3 separate regions of the Homo sapiens genome follow, and all the other regions are linked to region 2. The links come from fine-mapping of genetic effects on gene expression. A gene starts in region 2. Each other region holds a variant in brackets. All regions are shown on one strand. Distances are from middle to middle.

Region 1 (6,552 bases), 62 kb after region 2:
TTGTGCATGACTTTTATTTGTTTTTGGATGATACCCTTAGAATTTCTGCTTAGAATAGGACTTCTTTTTTGTACCCCCTTTGACAGGCTATGAAGCCTATAGACACCATCTCAGAATAATAGGCTTGTTTGTTCTGTTTTACACTTTTATTGCAGTGTAATACAGATACAGAAAAGTACATATATCATAGTGTACAGCTGGATCAATTCTCACAAACCCAACACACCTGTAACCTTGCTCACATCAAAAAATCAATACCATCCATACCACAGACAGCACCTCATGCCCTTTTCCAGTGACAATCCCCACTGCAAAGGTGACCTCCATCCTCACTTTTAAGAGCATAGCTTAGTTTTGCTTAAGGTACTTTTAAAAGGAATGGTACAGTTTGCATTCTTTTATGTCTAGCTCCTTTCAGTCAATACTATGTTGATGAGATTCATTTGTGTTTCTACATGCTTATTTTCAGTTCTGTATTTTTTGTTGTGTGGAAATACTGGAGTTTATCTGTTCTACTGTTTATGGGCCTTTGGATGGTTTGCAGTTTCCTTTGGCTACTCGTACAAGCATTCTAGCACAAGTGAACATATATGCAGTTCCACCTAGGAGTGGTATTGTTAGGTCACGGGGTGCACATATGGTACTTGCTAGATACTGTCAAATGGTTTTCCAAAGTGGTTGCATCTGGCCAGATGCGGTGGCTCACTCCTGTAATCCCAGCACTTTGGGAGGCCAAGGTGGGCAGATCACATGAGACCAGGAGTTTGAGACCAAAGTGGTTGTGTCGATTTATACTTCCACCATCACAGAATAGTGTTTTCTCATGTATAAAGTAAAATATATACATATATTCTATAGGAAATTCTTTTGAAATATGGTTATAAAAATAGTTTTAATATGTAGGTATATGTTATATGTGCTTCTTTATTAACACATACAATTAAAAGTTTTAGTAGTTCTTATAATTACTATGATTTAAAAGTAGGGATGAATATACCTGATGTTTGAGATATCTGCAACAAATGTAATGTGATATGAAAATTCTGTGTTTTACCAGTCACAAGGTCGCAGGTGCTGCTAACACTTCTATGGTTTGTTGATTACCTTTTGAATGATAGGAAATCTTAGTGTGTTACAAGTTAGTGAAAATGAAGGTATAATTTTTAATCTAAGTTCATCAACCTCCTGAAATCTATAAAAGGGTACATGGACCCCCAGGTTAAGAAACCCTTAAGGAAAATGACTTACAACAAAGATTTCTTGAGTGCCTCCTGTGTGTCATACCCTGTGTGAGGCGCTGGGGACCCAGCAGCACACAGCACACAGCACACATCTCCTCTCAATGAACTTGCAGTCACGAGGGCAGGAGTCCACATATGCACAGCCAGATATGGTTAGTTACCCAAAGTGTGTGAGAGCCTCAGGACATACTCCTAGCCCATTCATGGGAGGCGGTTGGTGGTTAGGGAAGGCTTTCTGGAAGAAGGGGCATCATTAGATTTAGGCTGTATACCTGTCACTCTGGCTACAGTGTGGATAATGGATTGGAGGAAACAAGTCTGCAAGCACTTGAAGTAATCCAGGTGTGAAGTAATTGTGGTAGAATGCAAAGAGAACTATGAATACGTTCTGGAGACTCTTGATTCCTGGTGATGGATTGGATATGGGAGAGGGCATTGGGAGTAGGGTAGAAAGAAGGCAGGTAGGTGTAACGTAGTGGTCAAGTTTCTGACTTAGTCAGCTGGTTGAATGGTGATGACCATTCACTGAAACAGAATGAGGAGCAGCTTCAGGGTCAGGGGAGATGAGTTCAGCTTTGAACATATTTAGATTGAGGTGTCTGTGAGACATCCAAGAGGTGGTTATACATTTATATGGGCCCTTGCTCAGGAGAGAGCTGTGAGAGTTTCAGTGTATGTGTAGGAGTGGGTGAGATACCCAGAGAAGGTAGGGAGGAAAGAAAAGATCCCAGGGTCAGGACTTTGAGAAAGATCAACTTTTTAGAAACCAGCAGATAAAGGGGTACTTATGAAAGATGGGAATGGTCACAGGGGTAGGAGGCAAACCAGGGAAGTAGAATGCCCTTGAAACCAAGAACAGAGAGAGTGTCAAGAAGATGCTCAGCAGACTCAGCAGAGTAGAAGAAGGTGAGTCTGGAAAACGGCCCAGTGGATTTAGCAATAAGAGGTCATTGATGAATTGCTTTTACTACATAAACACTGGGAATGATGATTTTTCTCTGGATTGTACTTTCATCTGGGTTTTAAGCTTTCTGTTATAGCAATACGAATGTCCAAGGGTCATTTCCTTTCAGGTTTACTTTTCTTCTTACATCTGCTTTATATATTTTCCTCATGCTCTAGTGAGTTTTATGCTGCAGTGGTAGTAGGCAGTCCTTTCAGCTTAATGACTTCTATCTCTAGCAGACTCTAGCTCTTTTTTTTTTTCTTGGGACAATAAGAGATATTGTTACAGATGTTGCTTCTTGGTAAAAAGACTTGCAGGCCTATTTTTCTGCAGAGTAGATATGAACACATTCACTTTGACTGGCCCTGTTTGTGTATGTGAGGGGTTGGCCTACTGATAATGACTTTGCAGGTCATCTTTCTTGCCTTGAGTGAAATTCAGTTTCTAGTCCATATGATAAAAATGTAATAGAAGAGATATAAATTCTATAAATTTATAATTATTTTCTTCCCAGAATGTCAACAACTTGGATTTTTTTATAATCTATGGGAGAAAAATGAGAAGCTACTTAAGTTAAACAAACGTGTTCAGTGCTTACTCTGTAAATGACAGTGCAG[G/C]CCACACGATCACAGCGATCCAGGCAGGAACCACTGAGTGCCTGGATACTCCTTCCCTCCTCATTCTTATTGTCCAGAGAGCCCCAAGTGCAGCTGATCTTGGCCTCTCTATCTTACTGCTTCTGCCCTGGTCCACATCCCTGGTTTTGTGTGGATGGTTACAATAGAGTACTAACTGGCCTCCTGGCTTTGATGGTTACTCCCCTAGCCCATCCTCTGCTCAAGAACCTGGTGAACTTAAACAAAAAAATTCAGATTTAATGAGCCCACTCCTAAGGATTCTGATTCAGTAGGTATAGGTGTGAGGCCCCAAAATCTGCATTTAAAAAGTTGCCATAGAAATATATATATAGGTGTATATAAATAAGTACACACGCACACACACACACACTTCCTTGCTCTTTCTGTTAAGATTACTAAGAAAGCAGTGACACATCAGCACCAGAAACATGACTAGCACCAAGAATTCAGTTTCTAAAGACTGTTCTCCACAAAAAAGAACAGAACTCCTTGGAGAAAAAGCTGATTCTAGGCCTGGGGCAGTGAAAGCACAAGATACATCTGGAATATCTTCTTGTGCTAGAAAATATAGCAGTGCTTAAAGAATAAGGGGAGATATTAAAATGACATGAGAGCCAGCTTGAAGGGACTTCCATTGGCGACATCTGGGATAATTTGAGCATGAATTATAATCTGTAGAATAAAATAAAAATCCTTGCATCCATAGTGATATAAATAACTCAATGGGGAGAAGGCAAAGCTCTTCCTTGTATAGAAAGCCAAGTATTAAATATAGCTGGAATGATGGAGTTAGAAAACCAATGGATGCTATAACTAGTGATGAAGTTTTGTTGAGAAACGTGATTTTACATTGTCCTCCACCACCAGATAGTTAATATTTACAAAGGACAAACAATAAGTACAGTGGAGAAACCTGGCAACCCACCATAACTAAATTCAAATTAACATTCATAACAATGGGACAAACCACACCATTAAAAGAAAAAAAGATTCCTCAAGTGGTTTTAGTCTCCAGAATTTCTGCTCTATGCTAGCACTGGAATTAGTGTTCTGTGGCACAGATCTGATCTGTCTCTGCCTTGCTTAAAAACTCCGGCCAACTCTATTGCTTCTGGAATGCGACCCTACCCCCACCTTTTTGCCATTATCTCTTGCCACAGCTCTGTTTCCCCGACTTTCCTACCTTTGGTCCCATCACCCATACTCCTTGCAGTAAGTCAAAGGGTATATGTGTCTCCATGTTACTGCCCACAGCCTTGCTGCTGAAAGTGCCTTCCAGGTCTCTGGAATCTGAATTTGTGGCAGATTCATATAAGCCAAGAGACAACTACAGTGTCACCATCTCTGTGAAGCCCTCCCTGATTTCATGGGGGCAGAACTAATGTCTGTTTCCTCCTTGCCACTGTAGCATTTTCTCCGTCTCTTAAACACGTCTCAATTCTGCTATGACTTTCCATTTGTGTGTCTCTCCACCCCAGTTATGCAGGCGACTGGCCCCTCTGTGTCCCGGAGGCTCTTTATGTGGTGGAAAAAGCTAGGGCTTCAGTGCCAGTCACACCTAGGTTTGAATCTGATTCTACCACTTCTTAGTTGTTACACAGCCAGCCTCAGCTTCTTCCTCTAGACACACTGGTAGATTGTTATTGAGAATTCAATTCAGTAAAGCATATAAGGAGCTTTGCAAAGTGAGTTGAAGAATGACATAAAAGAGAAAGAAACCTCACTCTAGGCCCTGAGTAAGTTTTTTCACACGTAAGTCCTCACTGAATTTCATCATTGATAGGTCTTTGGAAACTGTGACTTTAAACAAAACAATGTACAACAAACCAATTTTACCATCAGCCGATTGATATAAAGAGTTAAATTCCTACGCATATTTCTGGCCACAGGAAAATCACTAACCTAACTAAAGACCAAAATGCTTATCATATTAAACATTAAAGTAAATGGGAGCTATCTAGATGTTTAAGAAAAGTTAATAAAAACTAGTAAGATAATGATTTACTTGTTTATTCAGTTCAGGGTCCCGGGTGGCTGGAGCCTATCCCCGCAGCTCAGGGTACAAGGTGGGAACCAGCCCTGGACAGGACGCAGTCACGTCGCAGGGTGCACGCACATACACAGTTGCACTCATGTAGCACTCATGGAGACACACCAGTTCACTGAACATGCACATCTTTGGAATGTGGGAGGAAAGCAGAGCACCTGGAGAAAACCCTCGCAGACGTGGGGAGATCGTGCGAACTCCAAATGACAGTGGCCCTGGCCAGGAATTGATATTTTTTCTCATCAATGTTGTAACAAGACAATGTTATTCAAGGACCTGCTGTATATATCTATTATTTTCAAAGACGTATTTTATATATATGCATTTTTCCCTGTAATCCTGAAGAGAATTCAGAGGTATAGTTACATGGCTAGTAACCAACAGACCCAACTTTGAACCTATTTCTGACTCCAAAGCCATGTTCTTTCTATTACATGGGAACTCATAAACCAGGAGAGACAGAGCCAAAATTACCTTAAATAAGAAGCCCATAGTGAAAAATGTTAAGCTAGAGTTGTAGTCTCTAAACTTTTTTTGATTGTATACCTCTCTTGGTAAAATACTCTTGTGCAACTCCCACTATAGGAATATTTGTTTTTTTATATATTTATGTTATATACTTGTATTATTGTGCTAACATTATATTATAAAACACATATGACATTTACATTAAATTTATATGTGAATGCAATTTACATATAAATTTCTTACTATACTCCCCCAAATCATCTTGCACATATCTTTGAAAACCCCTGAACTAGAGAATAGAGGAAGGAAGGTAAATTTGACTAGTGGGGTTTTGGAAGAACCCATTCTGGAAGAGATGGCATTTGGGTGGCCTCTAGGAGGATGTTAGGAAGTTAGCTGGCACACTGGGTGGGGGAAAGCATTGCAGGTTGAGGTCACAGTTAGGATGAAGACAATGCATTGGACAATTCTGGGCATTTACATTGAACAATGGTAGTTGGGCCAGAGGAGAGTTGTGGGGGGTGGGGGGAATCTAGAAAATAATAATGTAGCACACTTAGAAATGCAGCTGTGAGACAGGCGGCCTTCTGAGCTAAAGAGATTGCTTTATGTTAGCAGTCTTTTGTGGGGAAAGGAAGGACCCATAATGGTGGTAGCCTAGAAGAAAACAAGAGCTGGCTGAGTGCCTAAGGGGCCAGAGGAAGGGATGTAAACCCATGGGAATGTCCTTGGGTGGCAAAGTGACCCCGAGGGATAAATTTGCAGGAACATGTAGGTGATTTCACATTTGGACTGGATAAAAATCCAAATGCGGAGGTGAGCCATGGAAGCTTTGAAAGATGTTAGTGACTGTGACTGGATCTGGATTTTAGACATACGGACTTATAAAAAAGTAGCATGGACAGGGGAGTGGGGTGTGCAGAGTCAGGGAGGCCAGTGTGAAGGAATGACCTCTGGAACGCAGAGCAGGGGGAGCAGGAGGGAGACAGTGGAGAGGCAAAGGGGGCATTCATGGGATGAGGAAGTGGGAGAGGGAGGAGCAAATGCATTAGATGACTAGGAAGTTGTGGGTCAGTTAGGGGAGAGAGGGACCGAGGAGGAGGATTGGGTTCTGGGGTGGGAGGATGGGGGCCTATTTCAGACATGCTGAGTTTGAGGTGCCTATTGAAAATTTAACTATGGACATTAGAAGTGCACAGAAGAGACCTTGCC
Region 2 (6,552 bases):
CTGTCAGGACAACTGATTGAAAAAAATCAGTCAGTGATTTAGGTATGGGACTCTGAACCACTGGTTTTGTTTCCACCATTTGTTTTCCTCCAAATGGAATGATTTCATCTTGCTAATATTAATAGGTAACCAACTATAAGGTTGTCCAGGCAGTGTGCTAAGTTTTCAAGTTGCGTTCTCATCAAATCCTTGCAGCAATTCTACCAGGCAATGTCTTCATTGTACAAAGAAGAAAACAGAGGCTTAAAGAGTTAAGTACTTGTACAAATCGCAGCTGGATATTTGAATTCTGACACATCTCTCCAGAGGCCACACTCTCAGACTACACTAACTGTCCCCCACCTAGATTCTTTTCCTGCACTTCTCTGTGGGCTGAGGAATGATGGTCATGGAACCAGTGCCAGCTGAGAGGGCATCTCATGTGTGTAAGCTGTTGCCCCAGTCGTGGGCTTTCAGAGAAAGGACTGGATACCCAGTGTCATGTCCACTCAACAGCCATGCAAGGCTGGGTTCTTGAAGCCACAGCTCTTCACTGACTCCTTGAGCATCCATGTGACTCTAGAGTTTAGCTATGCAAGTGCAAGCTTTGCTCTCAAATACATGTGCAATGTAATTAGAGGATAGCTGATGCCTGATTCACTGGCCTTACAAATCTGTAGCTGCCTGGATTTCAACTGTCAATACATGCTGAAGTCCTTTTCGGATCAAATTTAAGTTCAGATAAAGAGTGTGTGGTGGGGACACAATAAATATTTGGAAGGAAGAAAAGATGGAAGGAAAGAAGTAAGGAAGGAGGAAAGGTAGGGCAGAAGGACCCTCCAAACAGCTGGGTACTCTGTAGCCTCAGAAGGTTGGCAAGATAAATCACAGCTCAGCATAAAGCCTATGTCGGTGTCTGGTGTTTAAAAAGTGGGGAGGAGAGGCTCAGCCCACAGCCTCTGTGGACAGGTTTTCTTTCATCTGCTTTCTAGCCAAAGGATGTGAAGACAAGCTACAGGAACTGATGGGCTGCAGCTGAGATAGGTCAGATTTTCACTCTAGCCCCCTGAACTGGCCACAGGGCCCCTTCGTTCCCTGACTTCCATCATTGCTCTTTCCTGTGATGTCTGACCTCCCCTGTGTCACTGCATCTGACTCTTGCTGCCTCCTCAGCACCTGCGGCCCCATCTCCTCCAAGTTCTGAACTGCACAGGCATCTTCTGAGGTACAGCCATGTTTGGGTGCCCAGCCGGCTCTTCCTGCAGGTCTTCCTGCTCTCCTGATGTCCCTCAGCTCACAACCTCTCTTTTCTAGCAGAGCATAGAAAGACAGGAGCTGACTTCTGGATGCCTGGTCATCATTTCCTTCTTTAGTTCCATTTTACAAGCCCAGGTGCTGTATGAAAAACAGGGCATGCTAACCCTGTCTTCCATCCACTAGGGCGGAGCTGACGGTTAAAACAAGGCTCTTTCCCATGCCAGCAATTAGACCTCCATTTCTCAGAAGAGGAAAGAGGGGAAGCGTGAACAGACAGAAGGGCTCATTTTCTGTTTGTCAAAGGAATAAATGGATTAAGGATCCTTGCATTTCAAGATGCATTTCAAGATTTCAGAGATGGAGTCTTGATAAGACAGTGAGAACTGACTGAGAGGGAGCTGCACCCAATCACGGGGCCACGCACCCAGGGACAGTTGCACCTATATGGATTGTTTCCCAGCCAAATGATGTTCTGACCATTAACTCAGGCATCTGGGATTCCCCAAAGAAACAGATGAGTAGCATCACTTGGGGGACTTTATTTTTAAAAATAAAAATTCAGTTCCTTAAATAGGCATTTGGTGACCTCATGTTTTTTTAGTGAAACATGTTGGTAAGAGATGCAATATTTTGAACAGGAAAGACAGTATGATAAAAGCATTCTTGGGCCAGGTGTGGTAGCTCACACCTGTAATCCCAACAGTTTGGGAGGCCAAGGCGGACAGACCACTTGAGGTCAGCAGTTCAAGACCAGCCTGGCCAAAATGGCACAACACCATCTCTACTTAAAAAAAAAATTAGCTAGGCCTGGTGGTGCACGCCTGTAATACCAGCTACTTGGGTGGCTGAGGCACGAGAATCACTTGAACTTGGGAGGTGGAGGTTGCAGTGAGCTGAGATCATGCCCATGTACTCCTGCCTGGGCAACAGAGAGAGACTCTGTCTCAAAAAAAAAAAAAGCATTCTTCCTTTTTTTTTTAACTCTAACAACCCACTGGCCCACATGCCTCAAATCCTACATAGTTAAACATCACAAGTACCTATTCTGCATACAATTTTTACTTACATATGCATCATAAACATTTTGCTGTGTTTCTACAAGACTTTGTGATGCTTATTTCAAGGACTATTGGTAGTTTTCCACAAGTTGATGCAGCATCAGGCATTAAAATGCTCCCCAGATGCTGAGCATTTAGCAATAACACCATTCTCCACCAAAGAGGCTTGTGTTCCCAAAATTACAGCTCTTGGTTCTTTTTGAGAGCAGTTTTCTGGGGGCATAAACTGCCCCCTGGTATGGCTACTGCACAGACCATATTCCCCTTTAATCACGTGCCTTGGTGCAGGGTACGCATCTACTAACCACTTTCCCCTTGTGGAAATGTTCTCCCAGGGGAGTCATTCTCCTGCCCAGCCTCAGAGAGAGCCTTGATCTCAGCCGCTCTGACAGCTTCAGTCACTTTACATTTCAGGAAACTGAATATAGGTTCTAATCTCTTTGCTCTCTAAAAGCTTCTGGGGTCCTAATGCAAATTTTATCACCCCTAGTTTAACACACTGTAAGCCCACATCAATAATTTTCAAACACAAGCACACAAATAATTTTTATCTTACCAAACACCCTCCCAAGCTTCTTGGCAATTGCCAGGTCAGAAGCTAAGGACACGTTTACAGATTTTTGCTAAATATTCCTATTACTCCTTTCCAAATTACTTTCCAAACAGTGTATCCATTTAGTTACTAGCTATAAACAAAGGTACAGTCAGTCCTCACTTAAGGTTGTCAATATGTTCTTGCAATCTGAAAGTAAGTAACACCAATTTTACCACAAGCAAATTAATATTCCTATGGTTTATTTCTAGTCACAAACACATCAAAATTCTAAATAAAAACCAAAGGCCGGGCGCGGTGGCTCATGACTGTTATCCCAGCACTTTGGGAGGCCGAGGCGAGTGGATCATAAGGTCAGGAGTTCAAGACCAGCCTGACCAACATGGTGAAACCCCGTCTCTACTAAAAATACAAAAATTAGCCGGGCATGGTGGCGCATGCCTGTAGTCCCAGCTACTCAGGAGGCTGAAGCAGGAGAAACACTAGAACCTGGGAGGCAGAGGTTGCAGTGAGCCAAGATTGCACCACTGCACTCCAGCCTGGGCAACAGAGTGAGACTCCGTCTCAAAAAAAAAAAACACTTCTGATATTAACCACTGAAATAAATATGAGCTATACATACATTTAAGAAAGATAAATAAAAGCAAGTAAGATAACTTACTCAATAATAACAGTTCTCTAGGTTGCCGGAGTCTCCAGTCTCCGGTTGCTGTAGCTCATTCCAGCAGCTCAGGGCTTAAAGTAAGAACCAGCCCTGAACAGGACACTGTCACATCGCAGGGCACACTCACACACACCCCACACTCACACCAGGACCATGTAGACATGCCGGTGAACTGAACATGCACCTCTTTGAGGGGTGGGAGAAAACCAGAGCATCCAGAGCAAAACCCCTGTGGACGTGGGGAGAGCATGCAAACCACACAGACAGTGGCCCTGGCAGAGAATCAATTTTTTTCTCATCATTAAAAAAAAAAAAAAAAAGTTGAATGAAATGACATTATCTGAGGAACTGTTCTCGTTGTTGTGCTACAGAAACAATTGTTTTTGTTTTTAGTAACTATCATATGGCACCTCAAGCTGTGAGTTTCTTTGACTGCTAGCTAGGGTCAACTTTTTCTCCTGTTTTTGTCATCTTTCTTTTTTCTCTTTCTTTCTTTCTTTCTTTCTTTCTTTCTTTCTTTCTTTCTTTCTTTCTTTCTTTCTTTCCTTCCTTCCTTTCTTCCTTCCTTCCTTCCTTTCTTTCTTTTTCTTCTTTCTTCTTGCTTTTTTTTTTCCTTTTTGTTGAGATGGGGTCTTATCTGTCACCCAACCTGGGGTATAGTGGCATGATCACGGCTCACTGCAGCCTCGACCTCCCAGGCTCAATCGATCCTCCTGAGAGCTGGGACTACAGGGATGTGTCACCACTTTCTTTTTGAGTGAATTGAATTGTTCATTCATATCTGATTTACTGAGGGTTCTGAATCACAAGCCACAAAAACCAACTCTGGCTAATTTAGCAGAAAAGGAACTTATTAAGGCTCCCAGAATCTCCAGGAGGACAAGGGCACCAGGCTTAGGGCTTATACAGCCAGGAAAAATGTCCAAAGTCCAGCCTAGGGCAGGCTCCTGGAACTCGTCACTGGACTCTGACACTGCCAGGTGCCCACCATGACACCATACTGTGCGCAAACCCTGCTGTGGGAATTGCTGTCTTTGACAGCAACACGCTGCTGCAGTGACAGCTGTCCCTGCCACTGCCCTCACAGAACAGATTCTGCCAGGCTCCCCTCTGCACATGACCAGCCTCTAATTCAAAATCATGCAGGTGTACAATTGACAGATACTGGCCATGGATCTGTGCCCTTGCTGCAAGTGCAGCTGGGAAAAGACCTCATATTCTGCAGAAGGAAGGTTCTGCCCCTTGAGGTTACAGATTCTGCAAACACAGGAACAGCGTTTAAAAAGTAGCTGGCTGTGTGAATTTCCCTTTGCTGCTATACCAAATTACCACAAACTTAGTGGCTTCAAACAACATAAATTTATTATCTTACAGTTCTTCCATAAGTAAGAAGTCTGACACAAAAACTCACTGCATTAAAATCAAGGTGTTGGCAGGGCTCTTTTCCTTTTGGGATGCTCTAGAGGAAATTTCAATTCCTTGCTGTTTGCAACATTTAGAAGCTGCCCACATTCCTTGGCTCATGACCCCTTCCCCATATTCAAAGCCAGCAATAGTGATCAAGTCTTTCTCACACTGCATCACTGTTGCCATCCTCTGCCTCCTTCATCTACTTTCAAGGACCCTTGTGATTATATTGGGCCCACCTGTGTAATCCAGGATACTCTCCCTGATATGGTTTGCCTCTGTGTCCCCACTCAAATCTCGTTTTGATTTGTAATCCGCACAGGTCGAGGGAGGGAGACCGTTGGACCATGGGGGCGGTTTCTCCCATGCTGTGGTCATTGAGTTCTCAGGAAATCTGATGGTTTTGTAAGTGTTTGGAAGTTCCTCCTTGCTCCACTCTCCTGCTGACTTGTGAAAAATGTGCCTGCTTCCCCTTCCACCATGACTGTAAGTTTCCTGAGGCCTCACCAGCCATGCAGAACTGTAAGTCAATTAAACCTCTTTCCTTTATAAATAACCCAGTCTCGAGTAGCATCTTTATAGCAGTGTGAAAGCAGACTAATACAATCCCTATTTTAAGGTCAGCTGATTAGCAACTTTAATCCCCCTTTGCCATGTAATGTTAAACATATTTGTAGTTTCTGTGGATTAGGATGTGGACATCTTTGGGAGACCATTATTCTGCCTACCACAGTTGCCAAAAACAAAAAAACAATGAAGCTATCCACTGCAACATCCTTAGTCTGCTTATTTATTGGCATCACTATGATTTGCTTATAAATTGAAATGTTTTCTCCAGATTTTTACCTTTTATCAATTACACCAAATGAAATATTTCCCTCAGTCTGCTGTTTTGTTTTTGTATGAAATTTATGTTTCAGTATTAAGGTCTGTTCATTTCCTTGTGGTTTTATTTCTTCAAAACTGAGGACATGAATCTTCTTTCACAGATCTGATAACACATTTATTTTGTGCTTTTTAATACCATGTTTAAATTTAAATAAATTCTTCTGAAATTTGTTTTGATGTCTTTTATAAGGGGTACCTCTACCAATTGTTTTCCCTGATCTCTAGCCGGTTATCCTAATACTATTTACCTAATACTATTTAGTAAACAATCTCCATTTGACCTCTTTTCCTTTTTTTTTTTTTTTTTTTTGAGATGGAGTCTCGCTCTGTCGCCCAGGTTGGAGTGCAATGGCATGATCTCAGCTCACTGCAAGCTCCGCCTCCCAAGTTCAAACGATTCTTCTGTCTCAGCCTCCTGAGTAACTGCGACTATAGGTGCACACCACCACACCCAACTAATTTTTGTATTTTTAGTAGAGATGGGGTTTCACCATTTTGGCCAGGCTGGTCTCGAACTCCTGACCTCAGGTGATCCACCTGCCTCGGCCTCCCAAAGTGCTGGGATTACAGCCATGAGCCACTGCGCCTGGCCCTGTTTTCCTATATTAAAATATTAATAACTGATTTTCATTGAGGATCTAATATTTACTAAACACCAGGATTGGTACAGTTAGCATTATTTTGTCTCTTAACAAAAATACAAGGTAAACTCATGTCTATTTTGTTCCCATTGAACCCCCTGTACC
Region 3 (6,552 bases), 160 kb before region 2:
ACATATGATACTAACTTATGAAATTTCACAACAAATAGGGCAGTGAAATGCCAAACTCACTGAAATTCAGGACTGGTATTTTGGCAGCAGCACCATTAGAACTATACTCTAATGTAATTTAAAACTATTTGGAAGTAAATGTAAGACCAAATTGTTATTTGTGGTGGCTAGAAACCCCACATTAGCCATAAGACCATGGTGCTAGGTCTGTATTGAGTTAATAGTTTCTATTTTTAAAAATAATTTAGTCAACCAGAAGACATCAGTTAATTTCAGTTTTTTAATAGCTCTTCTCTGTATGTGGAACAGAAACAAGGATGGCCTTGAACTGCCATGTATATGAGAATAGCTGTGTATTTATTTGGTAGGACTTAAAAAATATTTTAGTTGGTTCAAGTTAGGTGATTTCAAGATTTGTAACTGAACATTGGAAAAATTAACTTTTCTCTCTAGATCTATCTACTTTCAATATTCAGCTGATTTTTCAAAATATTAGGACTTACAAAATTATATTTAGATTTTAGAGAGTATTATATGTAAGCGGAGAAGAAGTACTTTAAAATTTTAATGTACGAGTAGTAAAGAAGGATAAATTTCTATGCAGCAGATAAAGAATTTTCTTCTCAGGGACTCAAATAATAAATCCATTTGTAATATCACTGTTCCTTGTGCAGTTTGCTCTGTAAAATGGAGGAAGGTGAGAGGGGTGCCATGTTTCTGTCTCATACCGTTTTTTGTTATAGAGTGTATTCATGGTTATACTGTATAATAATGATAATAAGTTCTTAAACCGTGGTGATGAGATCTATTTGGCAGAATGTTTTAAAATAAACAGTGTATTTCCCACGAGTGAAATCTTAAAAAACAATTAATTTCCATTATAGTAAGGGTGAATTTTGCTCCTTCAAAGAGTATAGAGCCTGGTTGAATTTGCCCATTAAGAAAAAAAAATGTGTCTATTGGACTGTGTTGTTTGTAAAGCTAGAATCACCTTCCAGTGGCGTTTTCCATCCTTACAGGAAAGAGGTTTATCTCTGAATATTGAGAATGGAGGTTCATAATGGGCATTTTAGCGTTTGAATGTTGTAGGAAGAAGATGGCTAAATCTTCACTGCTCCCCTAAAGTACACACGTTAGTTCTGGTGGGGAGTAGCCACTCTGAGATTTTATATCAGAGACATAATGAATGGGACCCATGATATGTGAAATTCTAATTCTTTAGTACAGAGAAATGTGCTCTTCATCTTTCTGTCTTCTGAGGCTTTTTTCAAGTGTTCGAAACTGCCGTTGCAAAACTCTAACTGAGACAGTGGAAGAGATCTGTACTAACCAACTCCATCTTGCTTCTAACCTCCAAGCAGTCCTTGCTCTTTCCTGGGCTTAGGCCAAACTAACTTTGAGAGGGACTTAGTTTGTAGTTTAAAACAAAGATGATAACAAAACCCCCTTCTTGCCTGGGGACTAGATTGCTTTTGTAGGACTAGCAAATTAACCACAACATTAGAAAATATGGTTTAGGAGTCATGCTGCTGGAGGCTGCAAGATTCTAAACCTCCCCAAATGGTTCCTGGGAATAACATCACTATTGCAAAACCTAAGATGAGTGCTTGTGACATTTTGCAGACCCTGTCCTCGATGGATCATTTGGCACCACCCAGATGGATAAACTGGCTTATCTGGTCTTGTGGCCCCCACCCAGGACTGACTCAATGCAAGAGGACAGCTTCAACTCTGTATTCATCTCCACCCCTACCAATCAGAACTGCCAACTCAGTGGACCCCTACCCAGCAAATTATCCTTAAAAACTCCAGTCCCCAAATTCTTGGGGAGACTGTTTTAAGTAATAGCAAAACTCTGGTCTGCTGCACAGCCAGCTCTGTGTGAATAACTTTATTGCAATTCCCCTGTCTTGATAAATAGGCTCTGTCTAGACAGTGGGTGAGGTGAAACTGTTGGGTGGTTACATCTTCATTAAAGGAGATGAGCATTTTTTTCTTTAGCTTGGATAGTGTTTTTCATCATTTTTTTCATTATTCCCATCCCTTATCAGGAATTTTTTAGATTATTTATTTATTTATTTATTTTTGTGACAGGGTCTTGCTCTGTCCCCCAGGCTGTAGTGCTTTGGCATGATCACAGCTTACTGCAGCCTTGGCCTCCCAGGCTCAAGTGATCCTCCCATTTGAAGATGAATGGCTGGGACTACAGGCATGTGTCACCACACTTGACTAATTTTTAATTTTTTTGTAGAGACGGGCTCACTTTGTTGCCCAGGCTGGTCTCGAACTCATGGCCTCAAATGATCCTCCTGCCTGGGCCTCCCAAAGCACTGGGATTACAGATGTGAGCCCCCTCGCCCAGTGTGACCCTTTTTTTCCTCCTAATTGCCCACCCATGAAATTTTCATGCCATAGATACATTATATATCTATGCTAATATGAAAAAGAATACAATTTTTTGCCTCATCCCCAAAATGAATTTTCATTCCTTGTGGGGGCAATATCACCCCCATTGTGTATGTACAAGGAGACCTGGCTGGGTGGGTAACTGGCCTAGGCGTAATTAGACTTTGATGCAGGTCATTCATTTCCTTATTTATTTAAGAGCCTTGAGTCTTTTTGATATTTTTCTGACATAGACCACTATTAAAGGGTTCTTGCCTTAGAGGGTAGGCCAATTTGTTCATTTAAAGCATGGGCTTTGGAGTCATACCCACTTGGTTCAAGTCCTCTTGGTTTCTTCATTTTTTTCCTGTGCCACCACCAGCAAAACTTTAGTTTATTCACCTGTAAAATAGGGCTAATAATAGTATCTACTTCAAAAGGTTGCTGAGGAGGATGGAATGAGAAAGCAAATAAAGCACCGCACCCCAGAAAGAGTAAGCCATCCTCCCAAAATGTAATTTTTAGCTGTGTTAGGGTTTAGAGTCATCACCTCTGCATTTTAAAGATTAGGTTGTGTTCTTATGGTACAAGATTCAATAGTGATGAAGATATTATGATAAAAGCATCATAGCTGTGTGACTTGATTGAGTTGTTTAACTCTTGGGGCCCCAGTTTCCATATTTTTGTTAATTATGATTGAAAATACAAAATAAATTGACTGAAACGTCAAATATGGTAGTAATCCCAATAAATGCAAATGGATTATGCTTGCCGACTAAGTGACAGAGGCTCTTGGGTTAGATTGAAACAAAGAGAGGCATACCTAAGACAAAGTGACTCTAGAAGTGTGAACTCAAAATGTCTGAGACAAGTCTCAGTCAATTTAGAAAGTTTATTTTGTCAAGGTTAGGGACACACCAGTGACATAGCCTCAGGAGGTCCTGATAACATGTGCCCAAGGTGGTCAGGGTACAGCTTGCTTTTATACATTTTAGGGAGACACAGTACATCAATCAGTACATGTAAGATTTACATTGGTTTGACCTGGAAGGGCAGGATAGGGGCAGCCTTCCAGGTCATAGGTAGATTTAAATTTTTTCTGATGGCAATTGGTCGAAAGAGTCATTATCAGTAGAAAGGAATGTCTGGCTTATG[G/A]TAAGGGGTTGTGGAGACCTAGGTTTTATCATGCAGATGAGGCCTCCAAGTAGCAGGCTTCAGAGAGAATAGAGTTTGAGTATTTCTTATCCCACTTAAGGTCTGAGTTGATGTTAATGCTGGAGGGGGATGGATAGTGAGGCATGTCCATCCTCCCCTTTTCCATCATGGCCTGAAAGAGATTTTCAGGCAACTCCGGGATGCCCTTGGCCAAGAGGGCCCATTCAGATGGTTGGGGGCCTTAGAATTTTATTTTTAGTTTACAGAAGGTTTGAAATAAGGGGATAGAAAAATACATACCAGGCAAATATTACTGTCAATCAAAATAGAGTTCATATGTTAATAGAGATACAACAATATTTCATAATATTAACAGCTCATCTGGAAGATAAAATAATTATGATCTTGTAACATACTCAGGGAATGAGAAAGAAAATCTGATAATCATAGTGGGAAATATTACTATACTCTGTCATTGATAAATAAAAGTTAGTACAGCTATAGATTATTTGAAGTCCAAAATACTTTATTAACAAGAGTTTAGTAATTTAATAATTATTAATAGGTCTCAGAGAACCTTTCCCTGTCAGGATGATCTGATTTTGTGAATTTTGGCTGAACTGTATACAGCTCTATGGTGCCTTTTTTTTTTTTTTCTTTTGAGACAGAGTCTCGCTCTGCCACCCAGGCTGGAGTGTAGTAGCGCTATCTCAGCTCACTGCAACCTCCATCACCCGGGTTCAAGCAATTCTGCTGTCTCAGCCTCCTGAGTAGCTGGGATTATAGGCGCCCGCCACCTCGCCCAGCTAATTTTTGTATTTTTAGTAGAGACAGGGTTTCACCATGTTAGCCAGGCTGGTCTCGAGCTCCTGACCTCATGATCCGCCCGCCTCAGCCTCCCAAAGTGCTGGGATTACAGGCATGAGCCACTGTGCCTGGTATTGTTTTTTTTTTTTTTTAAACAGTGGATATGTTTCTGTAAAGCTGCAGTACACTGGATTGTTTTAAAAGTGAAGGCTACTTTAATAATAGACATTATATGCTTGTGACTTTTCTTGTGTTGTTAATTATCATGCCGTGACTTTTCATGTGTGTCTTTATATTTATGAGCAGAGAACTCTGAATGTTTGGGATGCAATCTCGGTCCTTTTTTGGCACTAGCCCCATGTACCTGAGTAATAATAGGTCAGACAGGTTATTAAGAAACAGTGGTTTCTTGCATGTTCTCACTCATAGGTGGGAATTGAACAGTGAGAACACTTGGACACAGGGCGGGGAACATCACACACCGGGGCCTGTCATGGGGTGGGGAGATGGGGGAGGGATAGCATTAGGAGAAATGCCTAAAGTAAATGACGAGGTAATGGGTGCAGCAAACCAACACGGCACACGTATACATATGTAACAAACCTGCACATTGTGCACATGTCCACTAGAACCTAAAGTATAATTAAAAAAAAAAAAAAAGAAACAGTGGTTTCTTGTAGATACTCCTTTTTGGCAACTGAACAGTTGAGATAGTTGAAGCAAAATTCTCAGACACACGATTTGCAGTTTGGTGCCTTCAGAGTCCTTAGAAGGCCTTTTTAAAGATAGCATACCAGCATCCAGTGTACACTTTTTCAAGTCTTTTATGAATAAAGTGGGAGTGTTTTAAGTGTTTGCAGAACATTTGGGTCTCTGAATTCTGCCAAAGTAATTGTTACATAGTTTTCTTCCTCGAAAAGGACTGGCAAACATTGGTCACCTTCTTCATTTTATTTAATTTATTTGAGCCTTTTAAGATTGGGTATTAAGGAAGTGTGTGTATATGGGTGTGTGCATATGTGTAGTGCCAATGAAAATTCCATGTATTCTCTATTTGTTGCTTTACTCTCTGAAATCTGAGTAGTTCAGACAAAAAATAATTTTTTTACAAGGGTAAAAACTAAATTTAAAAGGGAAATCTAAATTTTATTATGTGTATGGAGAGGCACCTTATAAAATATTCACTCTTTCATTAGCAGCCTATTTTAAAAAATGTGACTTCCTTGAAAGCAGAGTGTCTACCAGATCTATCTAAATCAGAGGAGTATATGTTTCAGGCGTTGTGACTGATGGAGATAGTACCAGAGTGGCAGCTCCAATTGACTTTGCCCCTGTGCTCTCACCTCCCAGTCCTCCCTCTGCCACCTGTCCAGGCAGCCCATTTAGAAACAAATAATTAGCAAGCACTTAATGTTACCAGGCACCCTGCTAGGAGTTATAAAGACAGAATGATGGGATCATGACCTCAAGAGGCCATGGCTTATTGATGGTAAGTAAATAGAAGGTTTGTAATTATGAAGCAGTCTTTTAATGATAGGTCAGCGGTGCATAAGGTGTCGGAGGGAGTGCATGTGGGCACTGTCTAAGGTTGTCTAATTCAGACCAGGTGGTGGTGGTGGTGAGTGATTTGAGGAGGTTCCTGGATGTAGTGATACCTGAGCTAGGATTTGCAGGAAGAGCAAAGAGCTGTTCCAGGTGATAGGTTTGGAACTGAGACAAGAACATGATTCTTCTCTCTCAGGAGTTGCAAGAGCTTAGGACATGGATAGTGGGACCAGGCTAGAGAGATGGGCAAGGTCCTCGTGAAGAATCTCATTTTCTCTCCTAAGGCTTCTTGGCATTATTCTGATGGCATTGGGAGCCATTTGGTAGATTTTAGTTTTTAGGGGGATAAAATAACTGGAATTACATTTTAGCACGGTCCCTCTGGTAGCATTGTAGGGGAATGGATTAGGGATTACAATGAGAGATGAGGAGCTGGAATGAGAAACTCCTGCTGGAACTAACTCATGAGATTTTCAGGAGGTACGAGTTACCTTAGGGCCACCCTGTGGAGCGAGAGGGAGAAATGAAAGGTGACTGCGAAGGTTTGTGTCTGGGGCGGCTAGGAGAAGTGGGGATGCCATTCAGCGAGGGAGTGGTGGAGGAGATGCAGGGCGTAGAGGTCGGGGCTGTGAGTTCGGTGTTCGACAGGCGGAGTTAGTG

Alleles and levels. Positions count from the first base shown, and alleles are read on the strand shown. Sizes are in standard deviations (SD) of each study's normalised expression. Not every link is listed here.
For the expression in sun-exposed skin of the gene that starts at base 3,730 in region 2, allele G in region 1 goes with a higher level than allele C (small effect, 0.21 SD a copy in GTEx).

What was found. PIP is the estimated chance that this variant, and not a neighbour inherited with it, causes the effect. A credible set is the group of variants that fine-mapping cannot tell apart.
Region 1: its variant is the best candidate, but not a certain one, in a credible set for the expression of SPTBN1-AS2 in sun-exposed skin (GTEx, PIP 0.81).
Region 3: its variant is the best candidate, but not a certain one, in a credible set for the expression of SPTBN1-AS2 in whole blood (INTERVAL, PIP 0.80).

What each region holds. Positions count from the first base shown.
Region 1 is chr2:54,738,275-54,744,826 of GRCh38, forward strand. The region is part of intron 2 of EML6 (EMAP like 6); the gene reads left to right. Among named protein-coding and RNA genes, the nearest start is that of EML6-AS1, 9.5 kb to the right of the region's middle. The variant G/C (reference allele first, on the strand shown) is at 2,805.
Region 2 is chr2:54,676,316-54,682,867 of GRCh38, forward strand. It overlaps SPTBN1-AS2 (SPTBN1 antisense RNA 2), which reads right to left and starts at 3,730. Exons shown (of 3, transcript NR_186176.1): 1 at 3,509-3,730. It overlaps LOC105374653 (a long non-coding RNA gene), which reads left to right. Exons shown (of 3, transcript XR_940104.2): 2 at 5,241-5,440.
Region 3 is chr2:54,513,463-54,520,014 of GRCh38, forward strand. The region is part of intron 1 of SPTBN1 (spectrin beta, non-erythrocytic 1); the gene reads left to right. It overlaps SPTBN1-AS1 (SPTBN1 antisense RNA 1), which reads right to left. Exons shown (of 4, transcript NR_185881.1): 4 at 5,855-6,552. It also overlaps the pseudogene C9orf85P1. Among named protein-coding and RNA genes, the nearest start is that of SPTBN1-AS1, 42 kb to the right of the region's middle. The variant G/A (reference allele first, on the strand shown) is at 3,541.